Linked DNA regions of Homo sapiens. The protein of the gene in region 2 purifies or fractionates together with the protein of the main gene of each other region. This does not show direct contact. Each region holds a gene or a part of one and is shown on either strand. Other genes may lie near its edges.

Region 1 (4,133 bases), on a different chromosome or scaffold from region 2:
AAGGAACTCAATAGCAAAAAAAATAAAAATAAAAAATCTGATTTTAAAATGGGTAAATAAGGTGAATAGACATCCCTCAAAAGGAGACATACAAATGGCCAAGTATATGAAAAAATGCTCAACATCACTAATCAGGGAAATGCAAATCAAAACCACAATGAGATATAATTTCACCTCAGTTAGGATGGCTATTACCAAAGATAAAAAATAAAAAATGCTGCTGAGAACATGGAAAAGGGGGAACTCTTATATATGGCTGGTAGGAATGCTAATTAGTATAGCCATATGGAAAACAGTATGAATGTTCCTCAAAAATCTAAAACTATAGCCAGGCACGGTGGTGTGTGCCTGTAGTCCCAGCTACTCAGGAGGCTGAGGTGCAGGACTGCTTGAGCCCAGGAGTCTGAGACCAGCCTGAATAACACAGCAAGACCCCATTTTAAAAAATGAAAAATAAACAAAAGTTAAAAATACAACTACCATATGATCCACTGGTAATGATCTATACCACTACTGGGCATATATGCAAAAACAAATATATCTATACGTCAAAGAGAGATCTACACTCCTATGTTTATTGAAGCACTATTCATAATAGCTAAGAAATCAGTCTAAGTGTCCATTATCAGATGAATGAAGAAAGAAAACATGGCATATATACACAATGGAATACTACTCAGCCATGAAAAATAAACCTGTCATTCACAGCAACATGAATGAGCTTGAAAGACATTAAGTGAAATAAGCTAGACACAGAAAGAGAAATACTCCATGTTTCTACTCATATGCAAGCATAAAAGGTTGAGAATGGTGGTAACCAGAGGCTGGGAAGGACAGCAGAGAGGCAGATAGAGATTGGTTAACAAATACAAAATTACAGCAAGTAAGATTCCATTTGAATAAGTTGTAGTGTTCTGTGGCACTGCAGAATGAGTACAATTGGCAATAATACATTTTATATTTTCAAATAGCTAGAAAAGCAGACTGTGAATGTTTCTAAACACAAAGAAATGATAAATGATTGAGATGGATATGCTAATTACCCTGATTTGATCATTACTCTTAGCACACATGTATTGAAATATCACACCAAACCCCATAAACATTGTCAATTAAAAACAATAAAAGAAACAAAAAGAATACCAAAAGAGAAATTCCAAAATATTCTGATTAAACATATTAATTACTACGACTGGACTCAATCCATGGTGACAACTACCTGCATATACATATGCAGGTTCACCTGTTAAAATTCCAGTCACTTTATGTATAGTCAGCCTTCACACAATCTTCTGTAAGACTGAAAAATGAGATTCCTTCTCTGTGTTTATTTTCTGAGTTTATCATAATCTTTTAACTTACTTTAGCTACATGTCTTATTTCATTTTTGGTTCCAAATTGACCTCTAGAAAATTGTTGAGGTGAATTTTGAACTATTTACTCTCTCTAAAGAGCAGTAAAAAAGCTGAGAAACCACAATCAGAGGGAAGAATTAGGACTCCCTGGATTACATTATGTACAAACAGCTACAATATCATCTCCATCCTACAGAAAAATAAAGAAGAAATTGACAAGTAGATCCAGATCAAGAAAAAAGTATGGTACTGGGTGGTTAAAGACACACGGAGAAACAATTTTTTTAAAAAAGTCAAAGCGTCTGAAGTGTGCAGTAAAATGTGCCCATTCATATGTACATCCTTTATCTCCTTAAATGTAAAAGTATTTCATAACTCAAGCCTCCATCTTTCTCATAAAGATATATGCTTCTGCTCCTCAAGAGTGGAGACAATGCTGTGGAACAAAGCAGGCTTTCACAAAATGTTTTCAAACAAACCGTTTGTCTACAGCACTGGACAGCAGTGAATGTATACACAGGGAAAATAAAGGGGATGAGGCCCTTTTGTTTCTGAAACATTTCCCTCTCCCAAATAAAATAAGGAGGGGATGACAAATTGCCATGGGCTTGTCAGGGAAGTCTGAAAGAAGCTGTGCTTCCATTTCTTTCTCTTCCCTATGACTCCTCCTCCTTTGTTTGAATGTCCCTGAGATAACATTTCACTGTAAACTAATAAGAAAGATGTGGCTGAAGGTTTTCCTAAGTGCACAGTAACCACTGGGTCTCTTTCATGGGTGAATTATCAGATGTAGAATAAGACTCTTGGCTGTGTCAATTTCTAACATAATTGTTTAGATGACAAATGATGATCTAAAACAGGTTTTCCCACAGAGATGATACTTATGGAGTTTCTCTTCAGTATGAATGACCAGATGGTAAGATGTTTCCTCTCACCACAGATTTTCTTCAGTGGTTATATTAAAAAACTATTTCGCTAATAGGAATTCTTGGATGTTGACTGAAGTGTACGTAAAAAGTCTTTCCACATCTGTTACAATGGTAGGGTTTCTTCCACTATGAATCCGTTGATGTCGAGTGAGGAGGAATGAGCGGCAATTGAAGGCGTTTCCATATTCACTGCACTCACTGGGCTACTCTCAGTGTGGATGATGGAGTGTTGAATGAGATCTGTGCTCTCACAAGAAACGTTCCCACTCTGGATGGGTTCGTGGGACTTCTCTGCAGTGTGAATCCGCTGGTGCCTTGTGAGGGGTGACCTGCGGTTGAAGGCCTTCCCGCACTCCACGCATTCATAGGGCTTCTCTCCAGTGTGGATGCTAAAGTGTCGAATCAGGTTTGTGGTCCGACAAAAGGCTTTCCCACATTGGATGCATACATACGGCTTCTCTCCAGTATGAATCCACTGGTGCCTTGTGAGCCCTGACATGCGGGTAAAAGCCTTTCCACACTGTAAACACTCATAGGGCTTCTCTCCAGTGTGGATGTTGAAGTGTCGAATGAGGTCTTTTCGAATGCTAAAGGCTTTCCCACATTCTTTGCACTCAAAAGGCTTTTCTCCAGTGTGGGCTCTTTCATGCAGGACATAGGTGGAATAGTGAGTGAAGGCCTTTCCACATTGACTGCACACAAAGGGCTTCTCACCAGTGTGAATCCGCTCATGCTGCTTGAGGTGTGACCTGCAGTTGAAGGCCTTCCCACACTCAAGGCACTTAAAGGGCCTCTCCCCAGTATGGATAATGAAGTGTTGAATGAGGGCTGTACTCTCATAAAAGCCTTTTCCACATTCGCTGCATGCGAAGGGTTTCTTCTCATTGTGGCTCTTGTTATGCAAGACAAAATTGGAGCGGTAGGTAAAGGCCTTTCCACATTCATTGCACACAAAAGGCTTCTCTCCACTGTGAACCCGCTGGTGCCGTGTAAGGTGCGACCCGCGATTGAAGGTCCTTCCACATTCACTGCACACAAAGGGCTTATCTCCATTGTGAGTCCGCTGGTGCCGTGTGAGGTGTGACCTGCGGTTGAAGTCTTTCCCACACTCCAGGCATTTATAGGGCTTCTCCCCAGTATGGATGATGTGATGCTGAAGGAGGTGTTTGCTCTTGCCGAAGGCTTTCCCACATTCTGGGCAATCATAGGGCTTCACACGAGGGAGAATCTGCTCATGCTGAACAAGGAAGCAATTCTCATTAAACATTTCCTCGAATTTATAGGAATTTTCCCCTTCATGAATCAAGGAATCTGTAACTGGTCCATATGAGTCAAATCCATAGAGAGCATCTTCTGGTGAGACTTGGTTCTGTATCATCATTGAACAAATACCATCAGCTGTCGCCAAACCTTCGTGTTCAAGGCTCATTTTCCCATGGAGTTTCTCACTCTGTGGGTCTGTCCCTGGTCTCAAAAAGTATTCCTGCATTTCAGATGGCCCATCTTGATCCATGGCCTGCCCCAAATAGGAGTATCTTGGGACTCCCTGTGCCAGCTGTTCCTGGAGTGAGACTTCCTCAGGCAAGGCCAGATGAGAAGGGATAGGCTCTACGGTCTCAGGTTTTGTGCTGTCACCTGAAGGGAACACAATACACAAAAGAACTTATTAAGATAGTACAGAAGAAATGAAACCACCTTTTTGGTGAGAACAATAAGATGAAAATAGTGATGATTTGAAAATAGCTATGATTTGATGGGCTGGGTACAGTGGCTCATCCCTGTAATCCCAGCACTTTGGGAGGCCAAGGCAGGCGGATCACTTGAGGTCAGGAGTTTGAGACCAGCCTGG
Region 2 (7,349 bases):
GGTTTCTTTCTGGGCTCTCTATTCTGTTTTATCAGTCTATGTGTCTATTTCAAAGGAGAGCTGACATTGTGAGAATCTAATTGACACTATGAATCCCTGTAATAACATTTCAACATACTTCCTGGGTCAGTAAATCCTGAGAAACAAACCTTGTTAGTCATTAAGATAACTTAAATAATACAATAAACAAAAAAAAGAACTCTCAGAACTTCTTAGGATAAGTGGTTTAAATGCCAACAATAGCTCTTGGGTACTACTGAAGCATCCACAGATGAGAGGTTAGTTCTATAATAGTTCTGTTATTCCCACCAGTAGAGTGTAGGGCATAATTCAAGTCAGGAAGCTTTAATTTACTTTATGTTTGTCAAAGGCCTATACAACATTGTAAATAAAAAATGTGCCAACAACCAAATTGGTTATTCCTTATTCTGATGCAATGGATTCATATTTTGTGCCTTCGGAATGGGTTTCTGTGATGTAAAAAGCTTAAGTCATACTGTAAAATAATAGGTCAAATTTTCTGAAGAGAATCTTGATTTGGATCACTGAACTCACCTGGTGCCTAAGAGTTGTATTCCAGCGTGCCCCAAATGTCAGAATCAAAACAAATAGGCAAAAATTGTATTAAGTATTAAAAGTAAGTGCTTTATTTTAAAATAACATATACTCTATTGGAAGTGGGCCTGGAAAATAATGGGCAATGAAAGAATTGGTGAGAGAAAGTGAACGGCTGAAATGAACCTCGTAAAGCACTCTACAGTGACCTCTATTCTTGTGTTTCATCTTCTTCTAAAATTGTACACTACTTAATGGCAAACATGATGCCTTTTTCTTCCACACTAGTTAGAACAGTCTCTGACACCAATAAATGGTAAAAATAGCTAGCTAGCATTTATTGAGTGTGTCTGGTTCTTTAATATACATCTTTACTCCTCTCTATACATCCTATGTGGCAGTATAATTAGCCCCAGTTTACAGACAAATTGAGACCCACAGACATTTTATGATTTAACTGAGATTTTATAGCATCTAAGTGATTGAGCCAAGATCTGAACACAACCCACCCTATTCATTTACAGAGTAGCATTTAATACATATTTGTTGAATTAATCAATGTTTTTGTGACTTAAGAATAAGGACTTATTCTGATTATAGAAATCCTTTCATTCAACTCATACAATTGTTATTATAAATACGGCATGAAGAAAAAAAAAGGAAGTCTAAGTTAAGGAGTTAATGATCTCATTTGTATGGTGCTTCTAAATAAATTTAACACTGTTATCTAAATCTATTTCAAAACTATTTTGTATTCTTATGAGAAAAGGAAATATTATATGTAGGGAGATAAAACGTTACAGTTAGAAGAGACTTTCAAAATATTTTCTCAGTCTGTATTTCCAGGATGGAGATTTACTTATTCCCCTTCTTCTTCTTCTCCCCCTCCTCTTGTTCTTTTATTTATTTATTTATTTATTTATTTATTTATTTATTTATTTTTAAGACAGGGTCCTTCTGTCACCCAGGCTGGAGTGCAGTGATGCAATCACAGCTCACTGCAACCTTGAATTCCTGGGCTTAAGCTATTCTCCCACCTTGGCCTATCAAAGTGTTGGGATTACAGGCATGAGCCACAGCCCCAGGACTACTCTTCCTTTTTGACTTGATTACCCCCCTTTAAATAAACTATATATGAAATTTTATGGTTTTGGGGTTTTTTTTGTTTTGTTTTGTTTTTTGAGATGGAGTCTCACTCTGTCACCCAGGCTGGAGTACAATGGCACCATCTCAGCTCACTGCAACCTCCGCCTCCCAGGTTCAAGCAATTCTCCTGTCTCAGCCTCCTGAGTAGTTGGGATTACAGGCAACTGTCACCACATCCAGCGAATTTTTCTATTTTTAGTAGAGATGGGGTTTCACCATGTTGGCCAGGCTGGTCTCGAACTCCTGACCTCAAGTGATCCACCCACCTCAGCCTCCCAAAGTGCTGGGATTACAGGCATGAGCCACCATGTCCAGATAAATTTTATGATTTACTGCAGCCAAATCTATATGTCAGTGATTTTAAAACTCAATGCTATTTTTTTCCTTTTTTTGTATTATATAACTTAAATCCAATTTTGGATCTAAACATAATGATTTTAAGTTTTTTAACAACAATTTTCAATTTGTGATCTAATAGCAGGTTTGGATGGAGCTTGTGTTCTGGAAGACACAGTTTTGATGCTTTTAATATCCTGCTGTTGTTAAATAGAATTTGAATGGGTGAAAAATGAAATGTGGACAAAAACATATTGGATTCTCAAAACACGAAATATAGATATTGGTACATAAAATTTGAAATTAAGGCAGATTCTGGAAAACTGACTCCTAACAGTAAATCAAAAGGGATTTCTTGTTGCTATTTGGAAAGCATTTTCATAAAATTAGAATGAAGAATACAGCAAATTTAACCACTAGGAAAACACTTTCTTCACTTGCCTTCCATGACATTCTACTCTCTTGATTTTCTCTTCTCCTTCTCCTTTGCTGGGTCCTCCTTTTCTTTCCATCTCTTCATGCAGGACTCCTCCAGGGTTCAGTCCTTGATCTTCTTTTTTCAGTTTTCTATCTACACTCATTCTAATGGTTTGAAATACTACCTATGTGCCAATTACTTCCAAAGTTTGATCTTTAGCCCACACCTCTCTGTCCTGCTGCAGAATCATACATCCCAACTGACTAGTTGACACCACCAATCAGATCACTAAAAAGTATCTCAAACTTAACATTTCCAAAACTGAAATCTTGATCTTACCTCTCAGATTTGTTCCATCTGAACTTTCCCGCATTTCACCTGATGGTAACTCCATCCTTTGAATCACTCAGGTCGAAAGTCTTGGAGTCATCCTTGACTCTTTCATGTCCTCCCTTCAGTTCCATCAGTAACTTTACCTTCCAGAGGAATCACTTCTCAACCACCTACACAAGACTTACCCTGGTTCAGGCCACTATCATTTCTTCCCTTCTTCCACACACCCTGCCCCTGCATAGGCTCTTCTCAAAAGAAGATTCTGAATGACGCTTTTACTTTATTTTTATTTATTTTTTTGAGAGGGTCTCACCCTCTCACCCAGGCTGGAATGCAGTGGCACCAACATGGCTCATTGCAACCTAGCCTTCCAGGCTCAATGGATCCTACTGCCTCAGCCTCCTGAGTAGCTGGGACCACAGATGTACACCATGCCCAAACAGATATATATATTTTTTTACTTTTTGTAGACATGGGGTCTCACAGTGTTGCCAAAGCTGGTCTTGAACTCCCAGGCTCAAGCAATCCTCCTGCCTTGGCCTCCCAAAGTGCTAAAATTACAGGCATGGGCCACTGCACCAGCCTGATACTTTTAAGATGTTAAGATCATACCATTCTTTTCCTCAAAATTCTATAAGAGATCTTCATCTCACATAAAATAAAAGCCAAAGTCCTTACAAAACTCTACACCACCTGTCCAATCTCAACACTTCTTGCCTTTCCTGGCTTGCTACTGACTAGGAGCATTGGAGCTGGCTGTTTGCTTTGCCAGGACAGCTTTTCTCCTTGATAACCAGCTTTTCTCAGATTAACAGCTCTTCCCTCAGATAACTAGTTTAGCCCATTACCTCCTTCAAACCTTGGCTCAATGTAACGTTTTCAATGAAGCCTACTCTGAGAATCCTATTTAAAATTGCAACGTACTTTGGGAGTCCAGGGCGGACAGATCACCTGAAATCAAGAGTACAAGACCAGCCTGGCCAACATGGTGAAACTCCATCTCTGCAAAAATACAAAAATTAGCCGGGCATGGTGGCACGTGTTTGTAGTCCCAGCTACTCAGGAGGAGGAGTTTGCAGTGATCGGAGATCGTGCCACTGCACTCCAGCCTGGGCATTAAAGCAAGGCTCCGTCTCAAAAAGATGAATGTCTCTTCATCTTCTTTTATCCTGTTCTATTTTTTTTCCATACCATGTCTTACTCTGTAGCTCACCATAATTTATTTGTATGCTCATTTTAGGTTTCCCTCAAGTAAAACGTAAACTAATCCAGGCACGGTTTTTGTTGTTGTTCCATTATTTTGAGGGCTGGGCACATAGATGCGCAAGGAGTGCCCAAACTCATCATCTCACTCTTTATACAGCTGGGCAAACTGCCTAAAGTTTCCTCAAGCCTCAGCTTTACTATTTTCTTGAATGGCTAAAACTCACAAAACACATCTAGCGTCAAAAACTTTGCGACCCCGGAAGTAAAAGGTTAAGGAAGGGGGTCACAGGAGAAGGCTATTTCCGTTTCCGTACGGAAGCAAAGGAGCCAAGACCATGGCGAAAGCCGGGGATAAGAGCAGCAGCAGCGGGAAGAAAAGTCTAAAACGGAAAGCCGCTGCCGAAGAACTTCAGGAGGCTGCAGGCGCTGGGGATGGGGCGACGGAAAACGGGGTCCAACCCCCGAAAGCGGCTGCCTTTCCGCCAGGCTTTAGCATTTCGGAGATTAAAAACAAACAGCGGCGACACTTAATGTTCACGCGGTGGAAACAGCAGCAGCGGAAGGTACGCGAGAGGCGGGGGCTGCCGGGCGCTTGCGCGTTGTTCCTGACGCTTAGGGCGGTCGCGGGGCGCACATCTGTGGTTGTCTGCTGGTCTCAAAAGTGTTCTCTGTGGCTCCGTGGGAAGGGTGGCGTCGCGGCCCACGTGTTCTGGTCCCCTCGCCCTAGTTTGGAGACTCTAGGTTCAGCCTTTTGCCTGAGCGTCAAGGTGGAAGATTATCTTGATAGGCTCTTTCCTGGGACGCTAGATTCACAAGGAAAGCTGTAAGGCCAGTTGGCTTAGTAGTGAAAACTACGCCCTCCTGGCCCAGAAGGCAAAAGTCTCAGCCCTTTGGTCCGTCTAGGTAGCGTTGGTTAATTTGCAGAATCTGAAATGGAGGCAATACGTAATAAATCCAAAATACTGCTTCTCTGATTCCTGCAGGAGCTCCTTACCGAAATTAGTACTGTAAAGTTTCTGGTAATTGTATTTGTTCTTTTCAGCTTTATCCTTATACGTTTCTGGTAGGTAAACAAACTGAAACGTAAAGAGGTTTAAACGACTTGTCAAGGTCGCAGTGCTCATTTCTGGTTAAATTGCAATTGGAAGAAAACGTTTGCTTATTCTTGCACATCGTAGAAGTTCACACAATATTATTATTATGTGTCTGCCTCCTCTTACTGGCCCTTCTGAGGCCCGGGACTGGTTCTTACTCATGTTCAGTGTCAAGGTGCTGTTTCAATACATACAAGGGGCGTTTAACTCATTCTGGTATGCACGTATTGGGGAGGGATGTCCTGGAAGACTTATTGGAGCTATGATTTCTAATCTGAAACCTGGTGGATTGAGGATCAGTAGGTGCTGGGGAAAAAAGAATATTTTTTATTTTGTCAAGCATTCTATCTAGAAATCTCCAGAAGAATATATAGATTGACAATACAAATACAGATAATCTTAAGCCACCTTGCAAGCTCTTACTAAATTTTAGAAGTATATTTTGATTATAAAATATGTGAATAACTGGTGATGGTTTTATGGAAAACAACCTGAAAACTCAGCTCCCATTCCTATTTTTAGTGCTTTTCAAGAGAAGCAAGCAGCATAACCATGGTCGTCTTTAGGATGCCACCAGTTAGGCAAAACAAAACACAGTGGAAACCATCACATACTTTAATTAATTTGAGGCTTTATGGAAAAAGGTTAAGCTACTCAAATTTTAAATGTTCAAACTTGCCAGTTTAGATTTTTTTAAAGGAGCAGGTCTTTGTTAAAGAAATCTTATTGATTGGCCAGCTCATTTGGCTTACAGTAATTTAGGTAGAAAACTCCACGTCCAGATGCTTATTTCAATAGATTACAAAGACCGCCCAGTTCGAGTATTCATAGCATTAGTAATTTGTAGTTTCAGTATGTGTTTGTGATATAACTGGTTGTTTCTCAGTATTGTTCTCTTTTTTTTTAACCCTTTAGGAAAAGTTGGCAGCTAAGAAAAAACTTAAAAAAGAAAGAGAGGCTCTTGGCGATAAGGTAAATAAAATTTTTAGCTGTTTGCTTTCTATCTTATATTAGGGAATCCCTCCTGATATTTAAGTTGAATTACTTTCTTTTAAAATTTATTATTACGTATTTCAGATGTATGAAGAAATACAAAAGTAATATAATAAACCTCTTTGTATCATTTACCCAGCTTAAGAAATAATGCATTAGCAAAGAATGTTGGAAGCCCCTCGTCTGCTTCATAATTGCTTTTCCCTCCGAAGATAACCACTCGTGAAATTTTTGATTATTTTTTCCATGCACTTCTTTTACCTTTACTGTGTATGTTTGTGTACCTATACGGTAACACAGTGGTGGTATTTTGCATATAACTTTGTGTTTCAGAGGTCAACACCTCTCCCTGACTTTGGGAATGGGGAAGCTCCCCCAGGTTAGGCCTGGAGCTTGGCTCTTGTCATGTGAAGCAAAGATTTTTGGTCAGGCAAGGCTGGGGAAAGGCAGGACAGATCCTCTTCTGGAGTAGGGTGATAAGGGTGTGTTAAGCTTTAGAGCTGGTACAGAGGATATGAACCTGTGAAAAGTGAGAATGGGGAGTGGGAGGACGGTGAGGATTATGGCAGAGAAAAGAGCAGATAATGCATCAAGAAAGAATTTGGCTGTATTTGTGGTACTCATAAGAAGTGAAATCTTTATTGAAAAAATTTTTTAAACTACTAAATGCTCATACATTATTGCATAGCTAAGTTATTTTTATTTTCAGTGTATTTATAGTTACTCCTAGGTTGTGATTTATTTTTGCAAAATTTTGAAAACATTCATGTCTCCGCCTCCCATTCAAGTAAGTTACCAAATAAGGGTGTTTGAGGAAGGGAAAAAAATGTAAAGACAGTATACAAACTAAACACTCTACTATTTCATACATTCTTTGAATAGTATTAGGTTAAACCATAGAAAATTGTCAATAGTAGACTGTTTTGACCTGCAGTATCCTAGTATGTCAAGCATGTTAGTCTCTTTTTAATTCTTTTGTAATCAGTCTATTACAGCAAATTAATGTTATGATCACCATTTGAAAACACCACCATTCTTGTTTTTTGAGATGAAAGATAACTTCTTAAAATTGCCTCCTTTAAAAAATGCTTAAAATGTAATATTTGTTTCATAGAGTAATAAATGCTAGTTTCAGTTTGTATTTTCTTCATAGCTCTGCTAGTGTACATATATTTTGAATTAGTTTTAATGTACTCTTACAATTCTGTGTTCTACTTCTTAGCAATTCATTTACACCATTTCTTGGTCTAAGCTGAGTATGCATGATT
Region 3 (7,048 bases), on a different chromosome or scaffold from region 2:
CCCTTCCTGGCTGAATAGTTTCGTTAAGATGTGTCTTGGTTGGGTACCGTGGCTCATGCCTGTAATCCCAGCAGTTTGGGAGGCTGAGGTAGGAAGATTGCTTGAGCCCAGGAGTTTGATACCAGCCTGGACAACAAAGTGAGACCCTGTCTCTACACACACACACACACACACACACACACACACACACACACACACACACACAAAAGAATGAGCTGGGTACCGTGGCACACACTTGTGGTCTCAGCTACTCAGGAGGCTGAGGTGGGAGGATTGTTTAAGCCTGGGAGGTGGAGGCTGTGCTTGAGCCACTACACTCCAGCCTGAGTGACAGAGTGAGACCTTGTCTCAAAAAAAAAAAAAAAAAAAGTGCTTTGGACCAGCCTGGGCAACATAGCAAGACCCTGTCTCTATGAAAAAACACAAAAATTTAGTGGGTATGATGGTGTGCACCTGTGGTTCCAGCTACTCGGGTATGGTGAGGTGAGAGGATCACTTGAGCCAGAGAGGTCCAAGCTGCAGTGAGCCATGTGCCACTGCACTCTGGCCTGGAGAACAGAACAAGACTGTGTTTCAAAACAAAACAAAAAGATGTATCTTGGTATGTTTTTCTTTGAGTTATCCTATTTGGTGTTTGTTGAGCTCCTTGAATCTGTAAATTTATATCTGACCAAACGTGGGGGATTTTCCACCTTTTTTTTTTCAAATGTATTTTTCTGCCTTAGTATCTTTCTTTCTTTCTTTTTTTTTTTTTCCATTTAACCCTGAGTTGACACAGCACATGTTTCAGAGAGCACAGGGTTGGGGGTAAGGTTATAGATCAACAGCATCCCAAGGCAGAAGAATTTTTCTTAGTACAGAACAAAATGGAGTCTCCTATGTCTACTTCTTTCTACACAGACACAGTAACAATCTGATCTCTCTTTCTTTTCTCCACATTTCCCCCTTTTCTTTTCGACAAAACCGCCATCATCATCATGGCCCATTCTCAATGGTCACTGTCTCTTCGGAGCTGTTGGGTACACCTGCAGAAAGGCTGTCACTTCACACTTGGAAGATTGCACAGCGGCCAGTCAGAGGTGCTCCTCACTTCCCAGACAGGGTGGCGGCCGGGCAGAGGCGCTCCTCACATCCCAGATGGGGCGGCCAGGCAGAGGCACTCCTCACCTCCCGGACAGGGCGGCCGGGCAGAGGCGCTCCTCACATCCCAGACGGGGTGGTGGCCGGGCAGAGGCACTCCTCAGTTCGCAGACGGGGTGGCAGCCGGGCAGAGGCGCTCCTCACCTCCTAAACGGGGTGGCGGCCGGGCGGAGGCGCTCCTCACCTCCCAGAAGGGGTGGCGGCCGGGCAGAGACGCTCCTCACCTCCCAGACGGGGTGGCGGCTGGGCAGAGACGCTCCTCACCTCCCAGACGGGGTGGCGGCCGGGCAGAGGTGCTCCTCACCTCCCAGACAGGGCGGCCGGGCAGAGGCGCTCCTCACTTCCCAGACAGGGCGGCCGGGCAGAGGCGCTGGTCACATCCCAGATGATGGGCGGCCAGGCAGAGACGCTCCTCACTTCCTAGACGGGGTGGCGGCCGGGCAGAGGCGCTCCTCACTTCCCAGACGGGGCGGCCGGGCAGAGGGTCTCCTCCCATCCCAGATGATGGGCAGCCAGGCAGAGACGCTCCTCACTTCCTAGATGGGGTGGCGGCCGGGCAGAGGCTGTAGTCTTAGCACTTTGGGAGGCCAAGGCAGGCGGCTGGGAGGTGGAGGTTGTAGCGAGCCGAGATCACGCCACTGCACTCCAGCCTGGGCAACATTGAGCATTGAGTGAGCAAGACTCCGTCTGCAATCCCAGCACCTCGGGAGGCGGAGGCGAGCAGATCACTCGAGGTCAGGAGCTGGAGACCAGCCTGGTCAACACGGCGAAACCCCGTCTCCACCAAAAATACAAAAACCAGTCAGGCGTGGCGGCGCGTGCCTGCAATCCCAGGCATTGGGCAGGCCCAGGCAGGAGAATCAGGGGAGCCCGAGGTAGGGAGGTTGTAGCTAGGTGAGATCACGGCAGTATGGTCCAGCCTTGGCAACAGAGGGAGACCGAAGAAGGGAGAGGGAGGAGAGCGGGGAGAGGGAGAGCGAGAGCTGCATTAGTATCTTTCGCCTCTCCCTCTGGGATTACAACTACACTTAAGTTAAAACGTTTGGTATTAGGGTTTTGTTGAATGTTTTTCAATCTTTTTTTCTCTTTGTTCTTCAGACTGGTTTTTTTTCTTTTCTTTTCTTTTTTTTTTTTTTTGAGATGGAGTCTCGCACTGTCGCCCAGGCTGGAGTGCAGTGGTGCGATCTCTGCTCACTGCAGCGGCGCGATCTCTGCTCATTGCAGCCTCCGCCTCCCAGGTTCAAGCGATTCTCCTGCCTCAGCCTGCCGAGTAGCTGAGATTACAGGCACCCACCACCAGGCCTGGCTAATTCTTTTGTATTTTTAGTAGAGACGGGGTTTCACTATGCTGATCAGGCTGGTCTCGAACTCCTGACCTTGTGATCCGCCTGCCTCGGCCTCCCAAAGTGCTGGATTACAGGCGTGAGCCACTGTGCCCGGTGGAGACTGGGTCATTTCTATTGAACGGTCTTCAAGTTCACAGACTCTTTCCTCTGTCATCTCCATTCTATTACTGAACCTATCTGATGAGTTTTTATTTCAGATGTTGTATTTTTCAGTTCTAAGATTTCATTTGGTTCTTTTTTATGGTTTCTTTTTCTGCTGATGATTCCCACCTTTTCCTTCATTTCTTGTGTGTTTTCTTTATAAGAAAGTATTTCTTTTTTGTTGACAGTATTTGATAGTCCCAAAATCTGGATCACCTTGTGGCTGGCATGTTTTGGTCATTTGTTCCTTTGAAAATTGCTCACATTTTCCTGGTTCTTTATGTGTTGCATAATTTTGGAATTTATCCTCATCATTGTGAATACTTTTTGTGTAGATTTTGGGTCCTATTATAATTCTTCTGGGGAATGTTGCCGTTTCTGTTTTAGCAGGCCACCCTGCTTCAGGTTCAGGCCAAAACTTCTGTCTTGCTTTTGGAGGCATTTGTTAAAATCTCGGTTCTGTTCTTTATGTCTTTGCTATGTTGATTTGAGCTGTCCCAAACATGAATAGCTTAGGGGCTGGTCTGAGACTTCTGCAGGTGTTTCCAATCTTATTTCAGTTCTCCAAGCTTTTGCTGCTTTGGTTTGGGTCACATTAGAGTTCAAATCTCATTTTGGTTTTCAAAGTCTTTGCTAGGCTGGTACGTATGGGTATATGCCACACATTCATGGCTAAGGTTAAGTTGTGACTTATTTGGATTCATACATTGAATTAAGAGATTCTTTTTTTTGCCTGTTTTCTCTCTAGCATTCCTCCCACCCCCAGTCCCCCAACTCTGGTCCACAGGGACCTTTTTTCCTGATTTACCTGGTAAGAAAGAAGGGAGTTTCTAGAATTAAAGCTGCCTATGCTGCTCTGCAAGTGGGGTTCATCCTCATTGCAAATTCTTACTTGAGGGAAAAAGACAGAATTGGAAAACTCACCCCATTTGGGGCACTTCTCCCAACTTTGACTCCCCTGCATAATTTACTTGTTTTTGTTTGTTTTACAGAGTCCAGTGAGCAGGAGGGGTGGGCCTTAGTGGGCTTAGCTGCCCCTCCAGAGCCAGGACTTCTGTGTATTAAATTTGTGTTATTGGACCTCATGTGTGGAGAGCCGAAACTCATTCTTCCCTATTTGTAACATACTGACATAACCAGTCTCTGTTATGTTTACTCATCCCCATTTCCATCCCCTCCCTCCTAGAGGAAACTGTATAAACAAGTGTGATGTTTGCACTTAAATATTTATGACTCCTTTAAAAAATAAGCTTTAAAATAAGCTGCTTTATGTGTGGATTTGTTTTTAGCTTGCTGAACTGACATTGTGCTAGAGATACTGTTTTGTTTCTTTTTTCATTCAACAATATACTTTTTAGTTATGGTCGTGTCTCTATGTGTAGAATTAGTTTATTGCTTCTAACAGCAGCACAGTATTCCATAGTAGGCATCTATCACATTTTGCAAGGATGGTCACTGTGTTACTTCCAACTCCCTGATGTCATAAGCAAACCTCTCTATGTGTAATTCTTATTAGCTCTACATCTAAAGTGTTACCTTGAATCTGCCAATTCAAGTTAACTTTTTTCCTTTTGTTTACTCTTTCTCCCATGGGCTGTCTCCATAGAGCAGCCAGAAGGATCTTTCTGAACCATAAATCTAAAGTAGGCCTCACAGGTATTTAGCTGGAAAAGGGAGGTTCTAGGAGTCCATTGACCACTCTTGGAGAACTGCTGCTCTGCTGCATCTTGAGCCACCTAGAAGAATGTCTGATGCTTTGTAGTTACAGAGTAATGTTTTTTAGCTGTCATACTGACTGGTCTTAGATTTTGGAATCTGGATTCAGCTGTATACCAGAAATCTCTGGCCAGGTTAATTCATGCAAGATAGCATCCATCCTTTAGCTGTGGAAGCTAAGTATCATGTTGCCTAAATAAGATAGGGCATCAGGTTTTAGGGAGAATGCTGAGGCAGAAGGAAGATGAGTCAGATTAGGGCCCACAGACTATTCCTTTCCCTTAGAGATACCCTTTAGTTGCCATCCCTCTGTCAGAGAAAGAGAGAGGCTGGGACATACCAGGTTACAAATCCAGGGAGTCTTCTGAAGGGTCATAGAACACCTTTATTGCTTCACCTACTTTCTTTTATTAGATGAATCTAGGAAGGAATGTCTACTTGGGCTGCAAAGTGATCATTTATGTGTACTGCTTACTCTTATTACAATGAAGTGTGATAATAATTGTACATGTTGTGTTAGATCAACTATTGTTATTGTTAGGTGATTACAACTTACATTCTGTTTTTATAGCAGGCTTCTTAGTTTTCTGCAGAGGTAACCAACTTGGTTATAATGTAAAAGAATGTATAGAAATTTTGCTCCAGACCTTCCTTTGTGGTATATATTTTTATGTTGTATTAGTAGCAGGACCCAGTGCTCCATAAAGGATAATAGTTTCCAGTACACTATCCCTCATGATGACTCCTTAAGTGGTTCATCGTCTGCATCTTCGTGTGAACCAGTGAGTGATTTTCCAGCATCTTTCCGAAAATCTACCTACTGGATGAAGATGAGAAGAATCAAGCCAGCTGCTACTTCTCATGTCGAAGGTATCAATATCAGTGTCTTATTCTGAAGACGGGCCACTTCCTAAAGTTATAGTTTGAGATTGTTATAAATACCTCTTAAAAGTATTAAATGGCGGCTGAGCGTGGTGGCTCACGCCTGTAATCCCAGCACTTTGGGAGGTCGAGGCGGGCGGATCACAAGGTCAGGAGATCGAGACCATCCTGGCTAACATGGTGAAACCCCGTCTCTACTAAAAATACAAAAAATTAGCGGGGCCTGGTGGTGGGCGCCTGTAGTCCCAGCTACTCAGGAGGCTGAGGCAGGAGAATGGCATGAACCTGGGAGGCAGAGGTTGCACTGAGCAGAGATCGCACCATTGCACTGTAGCCTGGGCGAAAGAGCGAGACTCCGTCTCAAAAAAAAAAAAAAAAGAGTATGAAATGCCACATATTTGTTTCTCATTAGTGATTTAAAAAAATTTAAGGTGTTAGGCAATTGCATCCTGTCCCATTAGCTTCATGAACTGCTATGTGATAGAGTGAAATTCTGCTAATCTTACTCCTCTAGATTATATTTAGCATTTGATTTTCCTCTTTGTAGTATTTGAATTCCCCTTTTCTTCTTCTTTTTTTTTTGAGACGGAGTTTCACTCTTCTTGCCCAGACTAGAGTGCAATGACTCGAGCTCAGGCTCACCGCACCCTCCTTCTCCTGGGTTCAAGCGATTCTCCTGCCTCAGCTTGTAATGCCAGCTGAGTAGCTGGGATTACAGGCATGTGCCACCACACCTGGCTAATTTTGTATTTTTAGCAGAGACGGGGTTTCTCCATGTTGGTCAGGCTGGTCTTGAACTCCTGACCTCAGGTAATCCGCCCACTTTGGCCAAAGTCTGTAATCTCAAAGTGCTGGGATTACAGATGTGAGTCACCATGGCTGGCCCCCCTTTTCTTCTAGTGTGATCCTCTGTTGATGATTTAGGGGCTGGTGTAAGGATTATTCAGGGGAGAATATTCTGGATCGTCACAATCTCAAGGGTCCTTGGTGGCTAGCCCTCTATCTTGAGCAATTCTTATCCTCTTGTTAGCCTCAAGTCAAGATTAAGCAAAACACATTGCTTGAATGCCCTTATTATTCATAAGGAACAATGGATGATTTGGAATAGATAACAATATAAAAAGAAAGGGAGAGTGGGTCAGTTAATGAGAAGTTACACCAACTTCTCTAAAAATGTCACAGACATTTCTCTGAGGCCTGTGTTCACTGATGATCTTTCCTTTTGATGGTCTTGTGAATGATGTTTTGAAGACAGGCCTAGATGTTCATTTACAAAGTGTGCTGAGTTTTTGTTTTGTTTTTGTATGGTACTTCAGGGTCAGGTGGAGTATCAGCCAAGGGGAAAAGGAAACCCAGGCAGGAAGAAGATGAAGACTATCGAGAATTTCCTCAGAAGAAGCATAAGCTTTATGGTAAGGCAGTAACTTTGCTACTTCTTTTTCCTTGGGTGACTGAGCTTTATTCTTTGAGGGTAAAGGAAAGAGAAGCCTTAGTTTGAGCCCTTCAGTGACCTCTGAGCCCTTTGAATTGTTTGGGAGGGAATGGCCTCCATCCTGCCTCATTATACCCTTTCATTCTGTCCTGACTTAGGCAGTCAGTCGGTTGAGGGACTGGGAAATAGGGTGTTGAAGAGGAGGAGAGGGAAGAGATTTTGGTATTAGCAAGGGTGACATGCTGGGCTTCAAGTTTCTGTCTTATGTCAGGGAGGAAGCAACGGCCTAAAACTCAGCCCAATCCCAAATCCCAGGCCCGTCGTATTCGGAAGGAACCACCAGTTTATGCAGCAGGTATGTTTTCTTTTGGAAGTTTTGAGGGATGTAGTT

Evidence for each region.
Region 1: the proteins of RPF1 (region 2) and ZNF460 purify together in Homo sapiens (affinity purification with mass spectrometry; 2 studies listed by BioGRID and IntAct, with this or other methods). This does not show direct contact.
Region 3: the proteins of RPF1 (region 2) and ZNF512 purify together in Homo sapiens (affinity purification with mass spectrometry; 2 studies listed by BioGRID and IntAct, with this or other methods). This does not show direct contact.

Annotation. Positions count from the first base shown.
Region 1 is NC_000019.10:57,290,485-57,294,617, reverse strand, and holds the end of ZNF460 (zinc finger protein 460), read right to left. Parts: intron 3,920-4,133; coding exon 2,388-3,919; 3' UTR 549-2,387; downstream 1-548. UniProt on the Homo sapiens protein: May be involved in transcriptional regulation.
Region 2 is NC_000001.11:84,474,953-84,482,301, forward strand, and holds the start of RPF1 (ribosome production factor 1), read left to right. Parts: upstream 1-4,313; 5' UTR 4,314-4,329; coding exon 4,330-4,557; intron 4,558-6,003; coding exon 6,004-6,060; intron 6,061-7,349.
Region 3 is NC_000002.12:27,593,042-27,600,089, forward strand, and holds part of ZNF512 (zinc finger protein 512), read left to right. Parts: intron 1-5,025; coding exon 5,026-5,213; intron 5,214-6,541; coding exon 6,542-6,637; intron 6,638-6,928; coding exon 6,929-7,012; intron 7,013-7,048. UniProt on the Homo sapiens protein: May be involved in transcriptional regulation.